7 linked regions of the Homo sapiens genome follow. The protein of the gene in region 7 purifies or fractionates together with the protein of the main gene of each other region. This does not show direct contact. Each region holds a gene or a part of one and is shown on either strand. Other genes may lie near its edges. The genes, in order: SLU7, CDC5L, SNRNP200, ISY1, NCDN, PRPF6 and EAPP.

Region 1 (3,500 bases), on a different chromosome or scaffold from region 7:
ATTCAAGTCACCACCTAAATTTTTATATATTTAAAATGAATAACTTTAAATTAATTTATTTCAGAAAAGGTCACTGAACAAACCTATCTCTTTGGGATTCCTTGTAGCCCTAGACCTATTACTCTATAAAGAGCAGGAGTTACACAGTGTTTGAACCAGGCATTAATGTAAACTGAGCCAAATGGCATCAGTAGTAAATTGCAGGGAGCAAGCCCTGACAAAAACAAGCAGTTGCCACAGAACTCTAGATGACTGACTCTTACCAGGCAGGCGTGGGGTTACCATATATTACAATATTCAAGAAAAGATGAAATCCAGATTTTTATATGAAATCTTATAATTTTAAAATGATACCTCTAATTAAAAAAAAAAGGCAGTGTGACTATGACTTCAAAGGAATAAGGGTGAATAGGTCAAATCATAACAGTAAAAACTGAAGTTGGGTTAAAATAAAATAAAATTTTCTGAAACAAATTATCCATTCCCTTTCTACTACTCCCAAATGCTATGGGAGGCAACTATAAAATAGGTTCATGGGCAAGCTATAGCTTGGGGCCATACATTTCTAACCTCACAAAACCAAAAGCTTTGGACACTAATCTGTCTTCATGCTTCCAATATCTTTTGCTACCTAAGTCAGGGAGTAAAGGACCAATATAAGAATCAAATAAGAAGAAACTGCTGGCAAGTATGGCTAGCACACTATTTCCTTTACTCAATATTACAATTATAAAGGTAGCCTATACAGTAGTACTACTATTATAAAAATGCTACCATTTTTAAAGTGCTTCAAGATTTGAAAAGTAGAGCTGCTAGAGATACAGCAAAAGGACGATTCTTTAAAAACCCCAGGAAAGCAGGGAATTTTGCTCACCAAATCAACTTTGGCATACTCTTCAACAATTTTCATGTGTTCTTCTGGATTGTAGCCATTCCACCGATCCCTCTTCCCATCATAGTCAAACATCAGTTGAGGCTGGACATGTTCATCTGGAGCTATATTAGTACCTGTAAATTTGGCTCCAACTCGCCTAGGTCTCTAAAAACAGAGTAAGATTTAATCTTTTCCTAAGTTTTTATGGCCCAAAGGAAAACTTCATACAACTTTTACAGAGTGGGCACTTTACGATCTATTCAATTTACAGTTAGTCTTACAGTAGAAAATTTTGTTGGTGTTGAACCAATTCCACTGAAACTAATTTTTATTTAACTTGTACCTAAATATAGGTGATTTCAGAAAAAGAGAAGTTAGCTCTCTGACAAAGAAAAAAGAAAGACTCTGACAACGGTTTTCAAAATTTTCAAAGGTGAACTTACCTCAAAGCAGTCTTTCTTTTTGTGTGTCATGGCCCCACAATTTTCACATGCTCCTTTGCGGTACTTAGTAATTATGGAATTCTATAAATATATATAAAGAAAAACAAAAATGTCTTAACCACGTAAGTTAGAAATAACTTTGACTCTCATTACTATTTTGTCTAGGGAAATGATTTCTTTGTTAAAAGGAAAATAAGTTAGAGTCTCCACACATTTATAAATGTGAAACTTTAAAGAGTTCAGGAGTGTAAAATTTATATAAGAAACACAAAGATAAAATAGTAATGCACTGTGAATTTCAATACCAGATAAAGGGTTTTATTATCTGTTTCTACTTTAAATAGTATTGCATTAAAAATTCTTACATTAAGTTCTTAAACTCTCCATATCCATGAAGATGTATACAGGTTGCCTACATACCTCTTTTACACCCCTCTTGTACCATTCTCCAGATGAGCTGAACTGCTTTTGTTTTTCTGGTTGTGGTCTCTGGTGTTTTAAAGTAGGTCTTTTTGAAGGATCAATATACCATGGCACTGAAGAAATATACTGAGGAATATGGGGGTTGATGTCTCTGTAATTAAAGTAAAAAAAAAAAAAATTTAAGGATAAAATTGGAAAATAATCAGTATTACAATTACAAAGGTAGCTTATACAAAATCTAAGAACAGAAATATTGCAGTGGTAGGGGGAAGAGAACAAGGTTGCTATCTCTATACTATAATAAAGAATAATTAAAAATAAAGAAGTAATTTATTTTAGAGTGAAAATATTTCCAACTAAGAAACTAAGAATAGTGATATAACTGAAGGGGGACAAGAGAGGAAGGAAAATAGAGATGTGTGTTAGTAATCTAAATCTTCTATCACAAGAAGTTTTGGTTCAAATAATGTCTATAGTCAATTAATTAAAATAATTGTGTAGGTATTATTATCTAGAGATGTGACGGTAACAACCAGAAAAACTCAAAATAGAAAGATTTCATAGCAGTCACTTCTGTAGAGCAGGCCAGGGGTGGGAACGGTAAAAAAGGACTGTTGCTATTCATTATAAGCCCTTCAACATAATTTCATTATTAAACCATATGCATATGAGTTTGATAAAATAAAAAACAAAAATGACATAAATGAAGAGAGGTTCCTCTCAAAGGATGAAAAATTAATAAACTAAGTAGACATGAATTTGAATTCTGAATGAATGGATCATACAAAAAATTAAGTACTTACTTTCCTTCTTCATCAACTTCTGCAGGAGCATTGCCCAATTTTCGCTGTTCTTCTAGCTCCTTCTTCTTTCTCCAGTCCTCTCTGGTCATCTTCTTTGGTTCTTCCAAACTCATTTCTTTGGACCCCGATAGGGGTGCAGCATTAACTGCATCTACAACTGTGGCTGACATGGTTATCTGGCCTCCTCTAGGAAAAGAAGTGAAACTTACAGTAAAAAGTAGGCCTTCATGAATTCACTCAAACTACCAAAAATACATCCTAATAATATATACTGTTTCATATGTTTTTTTTTCTCCTATATTATGTGTAAGGAAGGGTCTCTTCCCCCTCCTCAAGGTCTCTACATACTGTTAGCACTGTTTCTCTCTCAACTCCAATTTACAAATGGAGAGAGACACACACGTGTATTTAAAATTTCACAGGACTCTTTTCTCATATCCATCCTTAATCCCTCTTTCTGTGTATGTCTCAAACTTTTCTAACACAGTAACTCTTAATGAGAGAAAAGAGGGTCCTATCTCTGTACCCCTTCAAGAATGAATATCTCAAGAGTTATCTATATTCACTGCCTCCATTTCCTCACCTTCTATTTTCATCCTCACTCACTCTAACTTAGCCCTCCATTCCCTACCATTCTAAAGAAAAGAGTTACATCATTAAGTCATCAAGGACCATTGTGCTAAATCCAATGGACATTTTTCAGCTCTGTTCCTTCCCTTTTTATATATTATGTCTTGACTTCCCTGACACTACATTCTCTTGGTTTTTCTTTTTCTTTTTTTTTTAGAGACAGAGTCTCGCTCTGTTGCCCAGGCTGGAGTGCAGTGGCATGATCTCAGCTCACTGCAACCTCCGCCTCCCAGGTTCAAGCGATTCTCCTGCCTCAGTCTCCCGAGTAGCTCGATTACAGGTGCCCGCCACCATGCCCGGCTAATTTTTTCGTATTTTTTGTAGTGA
Region 2 (3,500 bases), on a different chromosome or scaffold from region 7:
ATAACCCCTTGAGCCCAGAAGTTGGAGGCCAGCCTGGGCAGCATAACGAGACCCTGTCTTTAAAACTGAGTAGTGTAATTCTACTGAGTAGATTTTTCAGAGGCTAGAGGTGAGCCCTTGAAGATCCTGTTTCTCATTCCTATTCCATGGAGAGAGACATCAAGTCAGAATATTGGACCTCAGTCCTCCTATTAATTACTTATTTGACTATAGGCAAGTTATTTATTCTGTGTGAGAAGGCAACCTGTGAGACGGTGATGGAGACTTAACAGTGATTCTGGGAGGCATTGAATCAGGAATTCCACAATAGAAAGTATATGGAATCAACCTAAGTGTCCATTAATGGGTGAATGGATAAAGAAAATGTGGACTGGGCATGGTGGCTCACGCCTGTAATCCCAGCACGTTGGGAGGCTGAGGTGGGCAGATCACTTGAGCCCAGGAGTTCAAGATCAGCCTGGCCAACATGGTGAAACCCTGCCTCTATAAAAAAATACAAAAATTAGCCAGGTGTGGTGGCGCATGCCTGTAGATCCAGCTACTGGGGAGGCTGAGGTGGGAGAATCACTTGAGCCCGGGAGGCTGGGTTTGCCATGAGCTGAGATCAAGCACTGCACTCCAGCCTGGGCAACAGAGCAGGACCCTGTCTCAAAAAAAAAAAAAAAAAAAAAAAAAAAAAATGGTATACACACACACACACACACACACACACACGAATACTATTTGGTCATAAAAAGCAATGAAATCATGTCATTTGCAGCAACATGGATGGCAGTAGAAGTCATTATGTTCAGTGAAATAAGCCAGGCACAGAGAGACAAATACTGCATATTCTTCCTCATATGTGGGAGCTAAAAGCGTTGATCTCATGGAGTTAGAATAGAGTGATAGATGCCAGAGGCTGGGTATGGTGTGTGGGTGGGAGAGCGGGATTAAGAGAGGTTGGTTAATGGGTACAAACGTAGATGGAAAGAAATAAGTTATAATGTTTGATAGCAGAATAGGGTGACTATAGTTAGCAACAGTGTATTACATATTTCAAAGTAGCTGGAAGAGAGGTCTGAAATAAATACTCAAGGTGATGGGTACCCCAGATATACTGACTTGATCATTACACATTCTATGCATGTAACAAACTCTCACATGTACCCTATAAATATGTAAAGTATGATGTATCAGTTAACAGAATCAGGAATTGGATTTTCAACCCGTGTGTGCCACCTATTAGCTGTTTGACCTTAGACAAGTCATAAAATCTCTCTGAGCTTTGATTCCCTTTCTTGCGAGATGGGGAATACTAATACCTGCTTTACCTTAGCAGGGTTGTTGTGAAGCACTCAGTGAATATTTGTTAAGTTTCTAAAATGTAAAGTTTGAACATAGTGGTTCCCAAAGGCAGGCTGTGGCTAGGCTGGCTGCATCATTATCACAGGGGGAGCATTTAAAAATAGAAATATCAGGGCTTCTCCTGTATATACTGAGTCAGTACATCTGGGGTGGTGTGGGAGGCACGGGAAGAGCAGTGATCTTGGAATCTGAGTATTTTACAAGTTCCCATGTGATTTAGTTGGACAGCCTTGCATAGGAATTGTTCTAAGGCATCAATAGTGGCATGTATTATTCCATTCTATAGAGCCACGAAAAATGTATTGGATGAGAGAAATTGTTCTGAGGGGAAAAAAAAGTATCTAATGATAGTTGTTCTCTCATAATTAAATAGTTTTTACCCTATTTCACAATTTGTGCTGTGCCAGTTAGTTGATAATAATGAAGGATACAATAATTGTAGCCACTGTTTAATGAATGCTTGCGAGATGCTTTACATATTTCGTTTTACTTAGCCCTTCTCAAAATCCTTGTGAAATAGGAATTGTTATTCGAATTTTATAGGGAAACCATGCTTAGGGAGGGTAAGTAAGTGACTAAGGTCACATAGCTAGCAAGTGGTGGGCCTGGTTTTTAACCTAGGTTCTTTGACTTCAAAACTCAAGCTGTTTCCATTATGCTACACCATAAAATCAGTATTTTTATGTTTTTTTCTCATTTTGAGCAATAGAGTGTCTCTTACATACCTTGCTTCTAGAGTATGTAAGAACTAAGAAAATACTTAGTTTTTCTTCTTTTAATTTTTGCAGATGAACTTGAGATGCTTTCTGAAGCCAGAGCCCGCTTGGCTAATACTCAGGGAAAGAAGGCCAAGAGGAAAGCAAGAGAGAAACAATTGGAAGAAGCAAGGTATGTGTGGATATAGGAATAAAAAGCAAAGTGTTTTTCTCACATAACAATCAACACAGAATACTTCTGTGACCAGATATGTGGTTTTTTTTTTTTTTTCCCCTCTCCACCAGCAATCAGGCAATCAATTCTGCAGTGGATAGCTGGGTGTCCTCTAATTCAGTTAACTCTAATACTGTCTACCTGGAGATAGCTCCAGATCTTACAGGTTGAGGACTTAGTCCCACAAGACTGAACCCCAGTTTTGATGCTGACCCTAAACCCCAGGTTATTTTGCTTGTGTTTCTGACCAGCGAGCTGGGTTCCACTGCCCCTTCCTTGGGTTCCATTCATCTGCTAGAGGACTCACAGAACTCAGGGAAACACCCACATTTACAAAGGATATTTTAAAGGATACAAATCAACGGCCCCATGAAGAGATACACAGGGTGAAGCCTGGAAGGGTCCTGAGTGCAGGTGCTTATGTCCCATTGAAGTTGGGATATGCCACCCTCCCAGCCAGTGGGTGTGTTCTTGTTCACCTTTTCGGAAGCCCCCATGTATTTGGCTGCCCACAAGTTCTCCAGACTCTGTCCTTTTGGGTTTTTATGGAGGCTTCATTAAATAGGCAAGATTGATTACATCATTGGCCATTGCTTATCAACTCGACCTTCAGCCCTTCTCCCCTCCCCTGAGGTTGGGGGTTGTGGCTGAAAGTCCCAAGCCCTCTAATCCTGCCGTGGTCTTTCTGGTGACTGCCAGCTATCAGTCAACTCATTAACATGCAGAAAGACACTTTTCACTTGGAAGAGTCCCAGGATTTTAGGAGTTGCATTGTTGGAAACGGATGAAGACCAAATACATTATTTCACAATGTGTGCTTGTCTCCATTCATAGTTCAATAATTAGTCTAGGCATCCTTAGGACCAATAAAACTGCATGATTTATTAACCCGTTGGGTGAATAATAATTGGAATTGTCCAGTTCCTATTTCGCTAGTATTCTTTACCTTCTTTATTTCTCTGAAACTATCTTGTATTTTTTTCCCCCAACCATTTCAGAATATTTATAGAAAACCATATTTAAAAAAAATTGAAGCTATGGCAGAGGTAATGCCCAGTTTATCCAGTATGTTGAGTGTGTTCTGTTGGCATATGAGAGCTTCATTTGTTGTAGCTATTTTGGAGTCAGATGACTGTAGGACACACAAGATTATGTGTCTTTTGTATGACTGCCAATTAGTTACTTTCCTTGATTGGTATTGGGAAGGCACTGGCTGTGAAACA
Region 3 (3,500 bases), on a different chromosome or scaffold from region 7:
TACTTGACAATCCATAGCCCACCTTCTTGTGAGGACTTTCCAGAGGAAAAAACTCTGGAATATTGAGTTCAGAAGCACACCAGACTAAGATTTCATCAACATACATCTTTGGGAAGGAAGAAAACCGACAGAAATTTTAAGAAACTCTAGACACTAAGTGTTTATTATAGTTCACTCCAGCAAAAAGTGGCTCAATAAATGTAACAGGACCTAGGCATGGGGAAGAAGCACTAACACCCAGAAGTAACCTTGTAGCAATGAGGAAGAGCAAACTGAACTTACATTAGCCGAGAGGGTGCAGCGCACGACAGCCTCGTCCCCTTCCATGTCATCATCAGATGCCTCTTCTCGAACCTCCCCGTATACGTCTTCATCACCTTCCTGTGGAAATGACCCCAACTCAACCATGATCTGGAGCTGATCCTGCATCACCACAGAACCTCTCCCTCAAGTCACCCTAAATTAGCTCAATGGGTAGAGAAATGGCTTTGGGGTGAAACCGAGAGCCTATTGGAACCAAGGTCAGCCTTATTCCAGTGGACATAGAATGACTGCTTAGCACGACTTATTAGATATATCTACTTTCTATTTCTCACCTTAGGCTGCTACAATGGCAATCAACTGGATCATAGCCTCTCTCTAATACACACACAATCAACACTCAAAAACAGTGATCAGCTAAGGAGAAAAGAGCTATACAGAGGCATGCCTGGGAAAGCAGGTGGTGACTCCGGAATGAAGAGATCGCACTTAGCCTGCTCACCACTCTATTTACTCATACACTGCACATTAGGCGTACCTGGCATAGTGTCACAGTCAAAACAGGTACTTCAATAATGAGCACTGTTAAATGAATGAACTGCTAAAAGCAAAGCAGTTTGTTGCTACTTAAAATCATCAAATCCTATTAACTATACTGTAGGAAGAGGCTTAGCAATCACCTATTGAAATGGCCTCATTTTATAGAAGGAGAAACTGAAGCAAGATGACCTGCCAAGATACAGGACTCAAACTCAGAAGTCTTGGCTCCTAGTCCTCTGACTCTCCCCGTGCGACCCCTTCTTCCAGCCTTGGTATATATACCGGGGCTCCATTTTCCCTTTCAGGAGCCACTTCTACTCACTGAGAACTCTAAGGCACTGTAATTTTCTCAAAGTACCCCACTTATTCCTATTTAGTTATATTCAAGGAATTCTATTAGACAGTAAACATTAACCCCAGTGACTTAACCATGTACAAACTATGTCTGTGCTCTAGGGCAAATGTGCAATCTTTTAGTCAGATACAGTAATGAAAAATGGGAAAATACTGTAATAAGGTTAAAATGCAGTAAAACATAGCAGATACATTCTCAATGAAAGTATACACTGTACTTTAACTTTTTTCTTTCTTTTTGCTGATCCACTTGGTATATTTTAAATAATTATATTGTGGCCGGGCGCAGTGGCTCACACCCGTAATCCCAGCACTTTGGGAGGCCGACGGGGGGCGGATCACCTGAGGTCAGGAGATCAAGACCACCTTGGCTAACACGGTGAAACCCCGTCTCCACTAAAAATATAAAAAATTAGCCGGGCATGGTGGCGGGCGCCTATAGTCCCAGCTGCTCGGGAGGCTGAGGCAGGAGAATGGCGCGAAACCTGGGAGGCAGAGCTTGCAGTGAGCCGAGATCGCACCACTGCACTCCAGCCTGGGCGACAGAGAAGACTCCGTCTCAAAAAAAAAAAAATTATATTGCTTTACATTTGTTAGTTTAAATTTGCGGTAGCAAAGTTAAAAGATAACTGCACTTTTTTTTAAGCAAAAGAACATATAATGCCCAAGTCTGAAACCCATACAACACCATAAAATTTATCTGGTTTAAACTAGAGAGCTTGTTTACACTAGAAGGGGTCCCTTTACCTTAATCAACGTCAAAAACAAGAATGGACTGGGTATGTTTATCACTCACCTCCTCATCAGACTCAAACTGCACATTCACACCGTATGTCTCATCAATGTTGTCATCTGAAACAATGAAGGATTAGAAAAAGAGGGCAGTGAATGGCTAGTAAAACAAGGCACTCTGGAGCCAATGTCCTCCCCGACTACCTCTCCTCAGGAAAGATCTAAGTGCTAAGGACACATACAGATACTTAGATGATCAACATGAGAGAGCCACCTATGCTGCTCCTGCCAAGACCTTCTCCACCTGCCAGCCTTGGAGTCAGCCCAGCTCTGCTTGCTCAACCACTTGAGCCCCCAAGGCTCTGCCCACATTTTCTCATATTCCACACAATAAAAGGGTCTCAGAGTAAGGAACAGCTGCTGGAATCTAGGGATTCTGGTGTCCATCAATTGTAACTCTTCAAAAAACACAGAACAGATTATGGGAACTCACTGACATTAAGGTTTTTAAATGAATGATGCTAGAAGATGCATGTTTAGGGGTCAACAACAACCAATGAACATGATCAGAACATAAAGCGCGCACTTACCCATATTTTGGATTTCCTTATCTCCACCATAGTCTGTGATCTTTTTGCCCAGGTTCACTAGCACATGGTATCTGGTATCATCTGTTTGACCCAGCAGCAGGTCAATCTCCTTTCGCCTTTCCTTGTCCCGCAGCTTTTCATTCTTTAGAACAGCTAGAACTTCATCAGCTGCCCCACAAAGGATATCACGTGGCTGGTGGCAAGAAACAACCAACCAATATTGAGAACGACGACAGGCAAAACATCTTCAACCAGGTGTATGTGGCGGCAGGATGTGAAGAGCCACACCTCTTCAAAACCTGCCACATACTAGGCTCTGACCTTTCTCATTAATGCTGATGCCACAACTAAAGGAAGACTTGTCTGTTTTTAAAAAGATTAGCTAGGTGGCCTCAAGCAGCAGGACACAGCTTCCACAACAGCTTGCCACACTCCAGGTGGTAGTCACTTGGCAGACCTCCTCTAGCTTGCCACACTTTTGTAATTCTTTGTCCTCACTTCCTCTAGCACCCACCTCAACAGAGCTCCTCAGACTCATAATGGTCCCCAATCTAATCACACATGTGTAATGGTTAGGAACATGGATTCTAGAGATAAACTATCTGGATCATATCTTGGCTCTGCCAAATACTACTTCTGTGACTCGGGAAAATTACTTAACTATTCTTGCCTCACATCTCTCTTCTATAAAATGGAAAATGAATATTAACAGCACCTATTCATGGAGTTATGTAGGGTTGGGGGAAGACACGTGCTGTTCCACACAAATCGAGTGCTCAGTAAATATAAGCCACTTCTGCCAACCAGTACAGCCCACAAGAGGATCCAGAGAAAAGGTTCAGTCTCCCAGCTGTGACCCTCTCCCTTTCTGACACATGGTCTCATCCTCTGGCCACCTCACTCTGAGAATACTGAAATAAAGCAAACTTGTTTTTTTCTATACTCTCACAACAATTAACACAGAAGGCTTCTGTGACAATTCCTCCCCACCAGCAACCAATCCAAAAATTGTGCAGTGGACAC
Region 4 (3,149 bases), on a different chromosome or scaffold from region 7:
CCTTGGAGTTCTTCCATCCCCCAGTGGTACCTCAGGACCCAGGGCTGCAGACACAGGCTGGTGCTGCAAGGGCTCCTGCCCCATTCTCAGCCTTCCTTCCCTCTCCTTGTCTCATGTTGACCGGAGGGTAGGGGTCTGTCCCTGGTCTTCCTGGTAGGTTTTGTACACATATTTTGCTACTGTGTGGATCCATTTATTTTTATTGTGGAGTGTATACAACAGGTTGCGAACTGGCTGCCTGTGTCTTATTTTGACTTGCACTGCCATTTTGAGGGGAGAAGAATCAATTAGTGGCAAACATTTAAAAATGCAATTTTTTGCAGACCAAAGTATAATTTTAAAAAATGCAAATTTTCTAAAAGACACATCTCTTGAAAAATGAGATGATGTGGCCAGGCGCAGTGGCTCACGCCTGTAACCCCAGCACTTTGGGAGGCCGAGGCGGGCGGGTCACGAGGTCAAGAGATGGAGACCATCCTGGCCAACATGGTGAAACCCCATGTCTACTAAAAATACAAAAAAATTAGCTGGGCGTACTGGCATGCACCTGTAGTCCCAGCTGCTTGGGAGGCTGAGGCAGGAGAATCACTTGAACCCGAGAGGTGGAGGTTGAAGTGAGCCAAGATCGTGCCATTGCACTCCAGCCTGGCGACAGAGTGAGACTCTGTCCCAAAAAAAAAAAAAAAAAAAGATGCACGCAACCCACAAGTCAATGACCAGGTCCCTCTGTGTTGGTTGCTGCTCTGGGCTCTCCGTTAGCCCCCCTCCACCTGCTCCACTCGCTCCTGCCTGGGTGGCAGGAATTTGAGTTTGCTATTCCTGTTTTATAACCTGTTCTGCAGAAACCTATTTTTATTAAAGATTTTTATAAGAAAGGGAAACCTCCATGTCTTCAGCTTGTTCCCTGGGCCAACGGCTCTGAGGTGACAGTGGCATTAGGATGTGACCAGTCACTAAGGGGCACTGCCTTCCTGCAGGGGAGTCCCTGAAGCCCCAGCCCCAAGTGTGGCAAAGACAGGACCAGATCCCAGGAGTCTAGGTGGGAGTGAGCCGACCCACCATGGCGTCCGTGGCCACAGCTGTAGACAGGGCTCCTTGCAGTGGGCTGCACCGTGGCCTGCTGAAAGCACACAGTGGACACGAGCTGAGTCCAGAGCTTCCTCTGAACTGGGGCTTAGCTCTCCAGTGGGGAACCATGGTCAGCGGCTGTAGCCCCTGGGCAAGATGGTGCCTGGCTTCCTGCCCTCTGCAGGGTCATGGGAGTGTCTGGGAACTCAGGGTCAGGGCCAGATGGCTGTTCCTGGGGCCTGGGGCTCCAGCTCAGGCTGTTTGGGAATAGGAGGAACTCTTGGCTTGGAGAAGCCCATCACACAGCGGGAGGCCTGGGATGGTTGGTCTGCGGGGAGCAGCTCAGACTGGGGGTGGCAGAGCCGTGTGTGGCTGTGTGTGGCCAAGTCGGGAGAGTGGCCAGTGCTGGGCCCTCTCTAAGGAGCCCGAGGGCCACAAGGACTGTGGAAAAGGTCTGAGTGAGGGAGTCGGGAGCTAGTGGCTAAGGGACTTGCTTGAGGACGCTCCGTGCGGCCACAAGGAGAGGCCCAGGCAGGACCAGGTCAGGAGGAGGCTGGGGCAGAGGCCCTGGCAGGAGGTGGGTGGGCTTGGTGGGGATGGGAGTAGCCAGGGTGTAGGTGAGGATGGGGAAGGGGCCCCCCTGCCTCCTGGCTTCCCTGAGGGCTGGGCTGGCCAATCCCAGCCCTCAGTCAAGCCCGGAGGCAAATGTGTGCAGGGAGGAGAGGTGTCCAGGTTGAAGCTTTGGGAGCCCTTGGAGGCAGCAAGGCAGACTCGCCTCTGGGACCCAGCACCCAGCTTGGGCCTGCAGGTGGGGACTCAGGAGTGAATATCGTGGGGGCTTTGAGCAAGACCCTCTGGGCCCAGCCTCACCTTCCATACTTTGAAGTCAAGGAGTGGACCTGTGCTGTCTCAGTTTGCTCTGGGGTCTGGGCAGTCCTGTGGTTTGGGCAGAGGCCTCAGAGGGCCCTAGGGACAGACTGACCCAGGTCTGAGCCTCTTGGGAGCGTGCGGATGGCCGGCCTCAGACAGGCCTGGTTGTGGGTTTGTCTTCCAAGGGGCACACGCGCACTCTGGTGCTTCCTGGCATTCAGAAGAGAATGGGGAATCCAGACATCAGGCCTTCCTTCTCCCTGGGAAGGATGGCAGGTGCTTGGAGCCAGGCCTGTCTTGAGAGCCAGGGCTCTGGGTCTTCCTCCTCCAGTGCCCTGTTCCACGCCTTCAGTGCACAAAGCACTCCCCTCCTGGGATCTCTTCAGGGATCCCCGGGATGCAAACTGGCCAGGGATTAGAATTCCACATTTGAGCAAACAGACTGAGAGTGGAGAAGCACCCAGCTGGACATCCTCTAGGTGTTCCTGGCAGAGGCCCTTGCTACTTGTCTGTGCCCAAAGGCCCTAGAGGGTCCTAGATGTGGGACAAGGTCTCAGCAGGGCTCCAGTCCCAGGCCTGGAAACAGCTGGGGGTGGGGGAAGCTGGCTGGGTGGGTGTGGTTATCTTTTCCCAGCTTGTGGCTCCGAGGTGACAGAACCAATCTCAGGAGGCTTTGTTTGGTTAATAAAATCTACTGAATGGTTTATTTTAGCTTTGGCTCTGCCTGTGGTTTCCCGAAAAGCTACTTTTTCATAGTCATGTTTCCATCAACTTCCTTCTTCCCTCACACTGCCTGTCCTCCAGCGTCTAAAACACACCACCTCCCTCCTGTTTTGCTTTAAGACTGGTCACAGCATCCCCACCCAGGCCTCCTGGACCTCCTCCCGCTGCATCCCCAACTGGCTGACCCCATCTGCCCTTGGGCAGTTTATAAACAAGGAAGAAATGAAAACCTTTCTCCTCTTGCCCTGCACTTGCTCTGCAGTGCTGCGCATGCACACCCCATTCCCTGAAACACTGGCAGGATCTGGACCCTAGCTGGGGCTCCTCACCCTGCTCACTGTGCAGCACTGAAAGCAGGAACCCGCCTGGATGGACATCAGGCCTGGCCCAGCACCCAGCTGACTAGCAAGCAGAGGGATCCAGGGGGACGGGCAGCGGCACCCAGCTCCTTCTGGCATCTCACTTGCTGCCCACCTGCTCCACCAGAA
Region 5 (3,240 bases), on a different chromosome or scaffold from region 7:
CGACCTGCTGGCCGTGTTGCGGGGCCTCAGTGAGGATTTCCAGAAAGCTGAGGATGCCAGCAAGTTTGAGCTCTGCCAGCTGCTGCCCCTCTTTTTGCCCCCGACAACCGTGCCCCCTGAATGCTACCGGGATCTGCAGGCCGGGCTGGCACGCATCCTGGGAAGCAAGCTGAGCTCCTGGCAGCGCAACCCTGCACTGAAGCTGGCAGCCCGCCTGGCACACGCCTGCGGCTCCGACTGGATCCCGGCGGGCAGCTCCGGGAGCAAGTTCCTGGCCCTGCTGGTGAATCTGGCGTGCGTGGAAGTGCGGCTGGCACTGGAGGAGACGGGCACGGAGGTGAAAGAGGATGTGGTGACCGCCTGCTATGCCCTCATGGAGTTGGGGATCCAGGAATGCACTCGCTGTGAGCAGTCACTGCTTAAGGAGCCACAGAAGGTGCAGCTCGTGAGCGTCATGAAGGAGGCCATAGGGGCTGTTATCCACTACCTGCTGCAGGTGAGGGTGCAGTGACCCACAGAGGGGGCCCAGTATGGGGGGAGCCAGTGCTGGAGCTGGGAGGCAAGGGGGAGGAGAATAATGGGGAGACAGCGAAGCTGCATGTCCACACAAGCTGATACTGTAGCCAGCACTCCAGGGAGTAGTGTGCGGCCCAACCTCCCTCTCTCTCCCTCCCTCCACACAAGCACCATACCACACACCATATGTGCACTCACATCACAGTACACACACACGCACACACACACAACACAGTAACCTCCCACTCAAACGCTCCCCCCAATACACACACACTACACGCCACACACCTCTCCCCAACACATGCACACAAGATTGAAGCAGTCTGTTCTGCTCACTCCATAGCATTGTTTTATACACGCACACACCCGAACTTCTAATGGTGCAGGGAAGAGAAGCAGGGCTGCCTGGTTCCTGGCCTCTATAGAGGTCTGGCTAGATCAATTCGCCTGCCTCCCCTACATCCCCTCCTGCCTCCCCGCCTGAGAGGCCAGCTGTCCTGTCCCACAGGGATTCAGTCATGACTCTGGTCTCTTTAATGGCCTGCTCCAGCCACCGAGCTCACCAGCCATATATTCCATGCACCACGCTAAGCTCATGTCTTTTTTCTGACTTAGCACAAAAGAGAGCATCCCCTCACTCCCACCATTGGGAGCAGTTACACAGTAGCCAGGAACCTGCCCTCCCACCCCAGGTCAGAGCTGCTGTAAAGGGTGTTTAACTTAGCTTTTGACCTATGAATTTCCTTCTAGCCTTGAGACACTCCAGAGGTAGGGAGTTAGGGAGATGTGACTGGAGCCTCAGCGAGTACGGGGGCATGTCACTCAATTCACTCAGGCCCAGTTCACTCAGCAGACGTGTGTGGAGGGCCTGGCTCACTCTGTGCCAGTCCCTTGTGTGCGTCCCTACCACATGCTAGGTGCTGGGTTCATGGGACAGAATAAAGGTTGGGGCCTGCCTTTGAAAGGCTCACAGGCCAGAATTTCCTTCTAGTTGTATTATTTCTAGCTGGCTGGCCTCTGGCAAGGCAGGGAGGGTCCCTGGTCCTGCTCCATCTCAAGGGGGTCCTGTGGCAACAGGTGGGGTCAGAGAAGCAGAAGGAGCCCTTTGTGTTTGCCTCGGTGCGGATCCTGGGTGCCTGGCTGGCCGAGGAGACCTCATCCTTGCGTAAGGAGGTGTGCCAGCTGCTGCCCTTCCTCGTCCGCTATGCCAAGACCCTCTACGAGGAGGCCGAGGAGGCCAATGACCTTTCCCAGCAGGTGGCCAACCTGGCCATCTCCCCCACCACCCCAGGGCCCACCTGGCCAGGAGACGCTCTCCGGTGAGTCTGTAGTTACAGTCTGTCCAGCTAGATCATTCTACCGAAAAGCGTTAACACAAGGACACCCCTCCCCACAAACTGAGCTGTGCCAGGCTTCCTGATTGGGCCATGAGATATCCCTTAGGGTTATTTCTGTTTTGGGGGGCTTGTTCCCACAGGACTCCTCGGCTGCCAGGTGTCACTTGCCAACCCCAGATTTCTCAGTTAAAAGAGAACTTATACTTATTGAGCACCTACTACGAGCCAGGTATTTTGCTATACCCTTTACCAAAATGATCTCATTTGGTCCACGTGGTAAATATAACAGAAGTCTCATTCACATATGAAAGATTAGGAAACTGAGGCTCATAGAGATTAAAGTCACTTGCCCACAGTCACACTTTGTGGCAGAGCCCAAGTTTGGTCCTGGGTTGTGCGACTCTGAAGCTTGTACTTTTTCTGTGGTACCTGCGAGGATGTGTCCTTCTCCCCTACTTCCATTTCTCTTAGGCAAGGTGCCCTAAAAAGGGAATCTATGTGCCTTCATCTCTCCCAATCCCACACACGTCTGTCCCTTCCACATCCCCAGGCTCCTCCTGCCTGGCTGGTGCCACCTGACCGTTGAAGATGGGCCCCGGGAGATCCTGATCAAGGAAGGGGCCCCCTCGCTTCTGTGCAAGTATTTCCTGCAGCAGTGGGAACTCACATCCCCTGGCCACGACACCTCGGTGCTGCCTGACAGCGTGGAGATTGGCCTGCAGACCTGCTGCCACATCTTCCTCAACCTCGTGGTCACCGCACCGGGGCTGATCAAGTGAGGGGCTCGGGAGAGGTGGGGGAGGAGGCCGGAGGAGGCAAAGGAGGCTGCCCAGTTGCCTCAATTCTCAGTCTCCTACTTTGCCCCCCATGCCCATGGATTTGTTAGTGGTAGCATGGGGGTCTCAGAGTAGACATAGCCAGCCCCGCACAAGGATTCGGCATGCTGGAACCCCCAGGTACTGTCTCAGCATGTCTGCTTGTTCCAATCTCTGCCCCCCAGATGCTATGTTTGGGGCCCAAAGTTAATCACCCTACTGCCTAATTTCTTGCCAAGGGCTTGATTTGGCTGTACTAGACCCCCACCTACCTCCATCCTTCCCCCCTTTCTTTTCCAGGCGTGACGCCTGCTTCACATCTCTAATGAACACCCTCATGACGTCGCTACCAGCACTAGTGCAGCAACAGGGAAGGCTGCTTCTGGCTGCTAATGTGGCCACCCTGGGGCTCCTCATGGCCCGGCTCCTTAGCACCTCTCCAGGTAAGAACTGGGGATCCAGTCCTGATGGGTGAGGACAGAAGACCTGGGTGGACCTCCTGTGTTTGGGGCAAAAGTCACCATTTTTAGAAGATGGTTTTGCAGCATTTTCTAAGCAAGAGGAAATCTTTG
Region 6 (3,500 bases), on a different chromosome or scaffold from region 7:
GTGGGTGTTACTCATTTTCTCTCCTGAGAAGGCACCAGAGCCACACGTTGATTGAACTCTTTCCTGCTGCTGACGAGGCTGTGCCTTCTGCTCCCGCGATGCAGCGTGTGCCGTCAGCTCAGGTCAGATAACGACAGACGGTGTGCCTACCAGGCAACCTGATTCCATCCAGGGATTCCTGCCAGGGTAGAGCTTTTGTGGGTAGTTTGTTTATTTTTATTACTGTGGATTCATAAAAGGAGCACTGTTTCTCCTGTCACTGGAAGTGTGTAGTAGATGCTGCTCTTGAACTGGGTCCAGAACGAGTGCTAGTCAGGGGGCTGTTCTGAAGCTAATCTGTGCAGGTGGCTTCTTTTTTTTCATTTTTTGTTTTTTTTTTCTGGTTTTTTTTTTTTTTTTTTTTTTGAGATGGAGTCTCGCCCTGTCGCCCAGGCTGGAGTGCAGTGGCGTGATCTCGGCTCACTGCAAGCTCCGCCTCCCGGGTTCACACCATTCTCCTGCCTCAGCCTCCTGAGTAGCTGGGACTACAGGCGCCTGCCACCACGCCTGGCTAATTTCTTTTTGTATTTTTAGTAGAGATGGGGTTTCACTGTGTTATCCAGGATGGTCTCGATCTCTTGGCCTTGTGATCTGCCTGCCTCGGCCTCCCAAAGTGCTGGGATTCCAGGCGTGAGCCACTGCACCTGGCCTATGCAGGTGGCTTCTATCCATTTTTTTTTTTTTAGACAGAGTCTCGCTTTGTCGCCCAGGCTGGAGTACAGGGGCACGATCTTGGCTCACTGCAGCCTCTGCCTCCCGGGTTCAAGTGATTCTCCTGCCTCAGCCTCCCGAGTAGCCGGGATTACAGGTGTGCGCCTCCATGCCTGGCCAATTTTTGTATTTTTAGTAGAGATGGGGTTTCCCCATGTTGGCCGGGCTGGTCTCAAACTCCTGACCACAAGTGATCCTCCTGCCTTGGCCTCCCAAAGTGCAGGGATTACAGGCGTGAGCCCCTGTGCCTGGCCTTTTCTTTTCTTTTTTTTTTTTTTTTGAGATGGAGTCTCACTTTGTCCCCCAGGCTGGAGTGCAATGGCACCATCTTGGCTCACTGCAACCTCCGCCTCCTGGGTTTAAGCAATCCTCTTGCCTCAGCCTTCTGAGGAGCTGGGACTACAGGCACCTGCCACCACGCCTGCTTAATTTTTGTATTTTTAGTAGAGACGGGGTTTCACTGTGTTGACCAGGCTGGTCTTGAACTTCTCACCTCAAGTGATCCACCCACCTCGACCTCCCAAAGTGCTGGGATTACAGGCGTGAGCCACTGTGCCCGGCCAGATTTTTTTTTTTTTTTTGAGACAGCGTCTTGCTCTGTCACCCAGGCTGGAGTGCAGTGGCACGATCTTGGCTCACTGCAGCCACCACCTCCCAGGCTCAGGCGATCCTCCCAGCTTAGCCTCCCAAGTAGCTGGGAGTATAGGTCCCACCCCCATGCCCAGCTATTTTTAATTTTTGGTAGAGATGGGATCTTGCTGTGTTGTCCAAGCTTGTCTCAAACTCCCATCCTCAAGTGATCCTCCTGCCTTGATCTCCCAGAGAGCTGGGATTACAGGCATCAGCCGTCGCATCCAGCCTATTCTTCCTGAATTTATAGCCTAGGAAAAATAAAGTGTATTTTATGGAATCAAGGGCAGTTTTCAGTGAGAGCTTTCCAGCTCTTGTTTTTCCAAATGTCTTTAAGCGAAATATCCCATTGAGGCTTCTGTGCTGATAGGACCGTGCAGATGAGGGCTCTTTGGTAGAAAGCCCCTTATCAAATATAGTTTCATTCACTTACTGTCTACGTCTGTTAGAAGACAGGTGAAGGCTGCTTGCCTGTGATGCATGTTCCCCCGACCCTGTGCACTCACATGTGAACGTGCTTTCCTCTGTCGAGGCTGGTTTCTTGACCGCAGCCCAGCTGCTCAGTGAATGCTCAGAGACAGCCTCTTTTATTTTTTTTTATTGAGACAGAGTCTCGCTCTGTCGCCCAGCCTGGAGTGCAGTGGCACGACCTCGGCTCTCTGCAAGCTCCGCCTCCCAGGTTCACGCCATTCTCCTGCCTCAGCCCCCCAAGTAGCTGGGACTACAGGCGCCCGCCACCAGGCCTGGCTAATTTTTTTTTGTATTTTTATTAGAGATGGGGTTTCACCATGTTAGCCAGGATGGTCTTGATCTCCTGACCTCATGATCCACCCGCCTCGGCCTCTCAAAGTGCTGGGATTACAGGCGTGAGCCACCGCGCCCGGCCAGAGACAGCGTCTTATAATGAGGTGGCCAGGAACAGAAAGTTAGCACCTGTCTGGGTTTGTAGAAATCAGTTTATCTTTTTTCAGCTAGGAAGAAATAGTTCTTTGATGAAGAGCCCATGAAAGTCTGGGTAATTAGTATTGTTTACTTAGAAAAGCTCTATTGAATTCTTCCTGCCACAGTTTGATGAATGATCATGAATGTCTTTGTGGCCACTCCCTGCTCACCACCAGATTGTCTGGGTTCATTTCCAGTTGGTTTGGATTTGGAGATGGGAGTATGCTGTTGGAGGCGGGGGCCTTCGGGGAGTGTTGAGGGACTGTGTTTCCACGGCTGTTCTCTCAGGGAGTGGCCTCCTGGCTGTGCTCTCTCAGGCAGAGAAGCTGGGCTAAGGTGGAATGAACCCAGGATCTCCAGGATGGCCTTTGCCGCTGCCCTAATACTGGTCCTGGCCTGCCCTTTCCCAAGAGTGTTTCCAAAAACTGTATTCTTTTCCTGGGGTGAAGCCCAGCACTGCTTCATTTGGTTATTAGCAAACACTTACACGTTGCTTGAAGGGTCTGGTTTTTGAAATTAAGATGACAGCTACTTCCACTGGTGACTTAGGACACCTGCCAGCCAGGGAGCCTGGCAGTGCATGGTCTCTGTGAGCTCTGGGTCGCTGTTGGGCTGAGCTGACACCTTAGTCCTTTGTTGGGAGAATGGGCGTTTTGGGTGCTGATCTTGAGACCTGAGGAGGCTGAGTAACCTTAGGCATGGTGCTTGGCCTCTGAGCTTCCATGTCTTCCTCTGTAAAAGGGAAGAGGGCTTTCAGGATTGGGGAGGGTGCAGCATGTGAGCTTCCTGGCCAGGGTGGGGTGTCCCACGTGCAGAGTCCCCTGGGGAGGCCCGACTGGCAGCTCCCCTACAATAATGCACTCACATGCTGTGTACTCCGCTAGTTAATGCAGATGTGTGGAAGTGGAGTTATTTTACACTAACGCCATATGCTCTGGCCTGTGAAGCGTGGCATCCTTCAGTGGCCGTCGCCAGCGTGTCCCTCTGGGGGCACAGGAATGGCACAGTTCAGGTTGAGGGTCTTCCCTGCAGTCACGTGACCCCCGGAGAGCATGTTGGCCTCTGCACGGTCACGTCTTCATGGCTGTGTCTAGCATTCAGAATACTCTTCTGTTCTAGGCCAACTTCAGGGGTGTGTGCTTCCTCCACTTCTGCTCATAAAGTCACACTCCTTGAAG
Region 7 (3,500 bases):
ACCTCAGCCTCCCAAAGTGCTGGGATTACAGGCGTGAGCCACCATGCCCAGCCTGTGTGCTTGTTTTTTAATGTAGCTTTACTGTTTTTAAAAAATTCATGGACTTTTATTTTTGGTACACTTGTCACAATTAATGGACTAATATTGATACATTATTATTTTTTTTATTTTTTATTTTTTTGGAGACAGAGTCTCGCTCTGTCGCCCAGGCTGGAGTGCAGTGGCGTGATCTCGGCTCACTGCAAGCTCCGTCTCCTGGGTTCAACCGATTCTCCTGCCTCAACCTCCTGAGTAGCTGGGACTACAGGCATGTGCCACCACGCCCAGCTAATTTTTGTATTTTTTTAGTAGAGATGGGGTTTCACCATGTTGGCCAGGATGGTCTTGATCTCTTGACTTCGTGATCCGCCCGCCTCGGCCTCCCAAAGTGCTGGGATTACAGGCGTGAGCCACCGAGCCCGGCCTTGATACATTATTATTAATCAAAGTCCATAATTTTAAAACATTTCCTTAGTTTTTATGTACTGTTCTTTTTCTGTTTGAGGACCCCGTGTAGGATAGTACATCACTTTTAGTTGTCATGTCTCCCTGGGCTCTTCTTGACTCTGTCAGTTTCTTAGACTTTCCTTGTTTTCAGTGCCCTTAATTACTTTGAGGAGCACTAATCAGGTCTATGTAGGAGGCCCCTCTGTTGGAATTTGTCTGTTGTTTTTTCTCATAATTAGGATGGGATTATGGATTTTTATAAGTAAGAACATAGAAGTAGAGAGCCATTTTCCTCACATTATATCAAGAGTACATACTACCAACCTGAGTTTTGTGTGTTGGTATTGACCTCGATCACCTTGCTGACCAGTGTTAACTTTCTCTACTGTAAAGTTAGTCTTTTACCCCGCCTTACCATACCGTACTCTTTGGAAGGAAGTCACTGTGTCCAACCCAGACTTAAGGACTAGGGAGTTATACTCCACCACTGTGAGGGAAGAGCATCTTTATAGATTATTTAGAATTCTGTGTGGGGATTTGTCTGTTCTCCTCCATTTATTTATTTATTCAGTACATTTATATTAGCGTGGATTCGTGGGTATTTATACTTTGGGTTGTAATCCAGTCCTACTTTATTTTGTTGCTCAGTTTCAGCTTTGGCAGTTGGTGACTTGTTCAGTTGGCTCCTGTTTCCCTTTGTCATAACCACCTCACTGTTTTGTTTTTGTTTTCTTGATTACTTCCTTCTTTTCTGGCACTAAAAGATGCTCCAGGTTCATCTTGTGTTCCTTATTCCTAGAATTAGCCATTTCTCTGAATAGTACTGGTTCTTTTTATTGGAAAATGACACTAGAAACCAAGATCTGGTTTTAATATGTTTTTCTCCCCACTTTCTTCTTCTGTTCTAGTTACCATGGTTTGGGACCACAGAGATCACGTCAACAACAGCCTGTTCCAAATAGTGATGCTGTCTTGAATTGTCCTGCCTGCATGACCACACTTTGCCTTGATTGCCAAAGGTAATGGATGAAGGACACACACACACACACACACACACATACATATTTTGTTTAAATTAGAAACAGACTTTTTTTTTTTTGAAGTCAGAGTCTTACTCTGTTGCCCAGGCTGGAGTGCAGTGGCACAATCTCGCCTCACTGCAACCTCCGCCCCGTGGGTTCAAGCGAGTCTCCTGCCTCAGCCTCCCAGGTAGCTGGGATTACAAGCGGCCACCACCATGCCTGGCTAGTTTTTGTGTGTATCTAGATCTAGATCTAGATCTAGATAGATAGATAGATAGATAGATATAGTTTTGTTTTGTTTTGTTGAGATGAAGTCTCACTCTGTCGTACAAGCTGGAGTATAGTGGTGCAATCTTGGCTCGCTGCAACCTCTGCTGCCCAGGTTCAAGTGATTCTTCTGCCTCAGCCTCCAAGTGGCTGGGATTACAGGTGCCTGCCACCACACCCGGCTAATTTTTGTAGTTTTAGTACAGACAGGGTTTCACCATCTTGGCCAGGCTGATCTTGAACTCCTGACCTTGTGATCCACTTGCGTTGGCCTCCCAAAGTGCTGGGATTACAGCTGTGAGCTACCACGCCCGGCCTTATTTTTATATTTTTAGTAGAGACAGGGTCACACCATGTTGGCCAGGTTGGTCTTGAACTCCTGACCTCAAGTGATCTGCCCACCTCGGCCTCCCAAAGTGCTGGGATTACATGCGTGAGCCACTGTGCCCAGCCCAGAAACAGACTTTTGAGGTACTCAGGAATTCTGATAAAGTTCTGTACTTAGATTCTTGGTGCTGTGTGACTAATCTTTATACAATTAATTTTGATTATATATAGTTATATTAAATGTAGCTTTTATACTTTTAAAGTTGGGCACAGTGACTCATGCCTGTAATCCCAGTGCTATGGGAGGCTAAGGCGATCACTTGAGCCTAGGAGTTTGAGACCAGCCTAGGCAACATAGTGATACCTCATCTCTACAAAAAATAAAAAAATAAAAAATTAGCTGAGTATAGTGATGTATGCGTGTAGACCCAGCTACTCGATAGGCTGAGGTGAGAGGATGGCTTGAGCTCAAGAATTCAAGACTGCAGTGGGCTGTGACCACCACTGCACTCCAGCCTGGGCAACAAAACAAAGGTGAGATCCCCATCTCTCTCTCCAAAAAAAAAAAAAAAACGGGCTGGGCGTGGTGGCTCACGCCTGTAATCCCAGCACTTTGGGAGACCGAGGTGGGCGGATCACGAGGTCAGGAGATCGAGACCACGGTGAAACCCTGTCTCTATTAAAAATACAAAAAATTAGCCGGGCATGGTGGCGGGCGCCTGTAGTCCCAGCTACTCCGGAGGCTGAGGCAGGAGAATGGCGTGAACCCAGGAGGCGGAGCTTACAGTGAGCCGAGGTCACGCCGCTGCACTCCAGCCTGGGCAACAGAGCGAGACTCCGTCTCAAAAAAAAAAAAAAAAGGTATCTTTTCTAGTGCAAAATAGCAGCATAGAAGCAAACTGGCTCTCCTTCCCCCTGCAGAATACCAAAACCAAATATACAGCACTGAAGCTATCACCACCAGTATCCCAGATCTCAATATAAGGAGGAGACAGTTTCTAGGGCCACAGAGAAGTAAAAAAAACTTAAAGCAGACAGTAAGAGAATTGTTCTTCCATATCTGCTTATCCTTCTCCACAATCTGCCTGGCACCAAGTGAGCAGAAAAATTCCCCTGAGCTCATGATTTTTACATTAGAAAAAGTAAGATGGAAGTGTACAACCAGCTTCTTTACCTTTTTGAGTTCTCTGGTAAGAGATCTGTCCCTGCCTCAACTCATAGGAAGCACTGAGAGTGCCTGAAGGAAAAAATATCCCTGAGGATAGCCAGAGACAAAGAAGGATAGCCAGAGACAAAGCCAGGTCCCAAGTGTGAACCCCTAGCCAGCATTCCCATCCTACTGGGATATCCCTATCCTCTTTGGGACCCACCCCCCACTTCATTTGGAACAGGCAGCAC

The links.
Region 1: the proteins of EAPP (region 7) and SLU7 purify together in Homo sapiens (affinity purification with mass spectrometry, with the first as the bait; one large-scale study listed by BioGRID). This does not show direct contact.
Region 2: the proteins of EAPP (region 7) and CDC5L purify together in Homo sapiens (affinity purification with mass spectrometry, with the first as the bait; 2 studies listed by BioGRID). This does not show direct contact.
Region 3: the proteins of EAPP (region 7) and SNRNP200 purify together in Homo sapiens (affinity purification with mass spectrometry; 4 studies listed by BioGRID and IntAct, with this or other methods). This does not show direct contact.
Region 4: the proteins of EAPP (region 7) and ISY1 purify together in Homo sapiens (affinity purification with mass spectrometry, with the first as the bait; one large-scale study listed by BioGRID). This does not show direct contact.
Region 5: the proteins of EAPP (region 7) and NCDN purify together in Homo sapiens (affinity purification with mass spectrometry; 2 studies listed by BioGRID and IntAct, with this or other methods). This does not show direct contact.
Region 6: the proteins of EAPP (region 7) and PRPF6 purify together in Homo sapiens (affinity purification with mass spectrometry; 3 studies listed by BioGRID and IntAct, with this or other methods). This does not show direct contact.

Annotation. Positions count from the first base shown.
Region 1 is NC_000005.10:160,412,582-160,416,081, forward strand, and holds part of SLU7 (pre-mRNA-splicing factor SLU7), read right to left. Parts: intron 2,730-3,500; coding exon of another isoform or gene 2,714-2,729; coding exon 2,544-2,713; intron 1,892-2,543; coding exon 1,738-1,891; intron 1,399-1,737; coding exon 1,318-1,398; intron 1,040-1,317; coding exon 875-1,039; intron 1-874. UniProt on the Homo sapiens protein: Required for pre-mRNA splicing as component of the spliceosome. Participates in the second catalytic step of pre-mRNA splicing, when the free hydroxyl group of exon I attacks the 3'-splice site to generate spliced mRNA and the excised lariat intron.
Region 2 is NC_000006.12:44,394,206-44,397,705, forward strand, and holds part of CDC5L (cell division cycle 5-like protein), read left to right. Parts: intron 1-2,135; coding exon 2,136-2,235; intron 2,236-3,500.
Region 3 is NC_000002.12:96,299,047-96,302,546, forward strand, and holds part of SNRNP200 (U5 small nuclear ribonucleoprotein 200 kDa helicase), read right to left. Parts: intron 2,671-3,500; coding exon 2,478-2,670; intron 2,008-2,477; coding exon 1,952-2,007; intron 382-1,951; coding exon 283-381; intron 1-282. UniProt on the Homo sapiens protein: Catalyzes the ATP-dependent unwinding of U4/U6 RNA duplices, an essential step in the assembly of a catalytically active spliceosome. Plays a role in pre-mRNA splicing as a core component of precatalytic, catalytic and postcatalytic spliceosomal complexes.
Region 4 is NC_000003.12:129,126,915-129,130,063, reverse strand, and holds the end of ISY1 (pre-mRNA-splicing factor ISY1 homolog), read left to right. Parts: 3' UTR 1-2,649; downstream 2,650-3,149. UniProt on the Homo sapiens protein: Component of the spliceosome C complex required for the selective processing of microRNAs during embryonic stem cell differentiation. Required for the biogenesis of all miRNAs from the pri-miR-17-92 primary transcript except miR-92a.
Region 5 is NC_000001.11:35,560,799-35,564,038, forward strand, and holds part of NCDN (neurochondrin), read left to right. Parts: coding exon 1-496; intron 497-1,593; coding exon 1,594-1,835; intron 1,836-2,403; coding exon 2,404-2,628; intron 2,629-2,968; coding exon 2,969-3,111; intron 3,112-3,240. UniProt on the Homo sapiens protein: Probably involved in signal transduction in the nervous system, via increasing cell surface localization of GRM5/mGluR5 and positively regulating its signaling. Required for the spatial learning process.
Region 6 is NC_000020.11:64,001,632-64,005,131, forward strand, and holds part of PRPF6 (pre-mRNA-processing factor 6), read left to right. Parts: intron 1-3,500. UniProt on the Homo sapiens protein: Involved in pre-mRNA splicing as component of the U4/U6-U5 tri-snRNP complex, one of the building blocks of the spliceosome.
Region 7 is NC_000014.9:34,522,702-34,526,201, reverse strand, and holds part of EAPP (E2F-associated phosphoprotein), read left to right. Parts: intron 1-1,394; coding exon 1,395-1,505; intron 1,506-3,500. UniProt on the Homo sapiens protein: May play an important role in the fine-tuning of both major E2F1 activities, the regulation of the cell-cycle and the induction of apoptosis. Promotes S-phase entry, and inhibits p14(ARP) expression.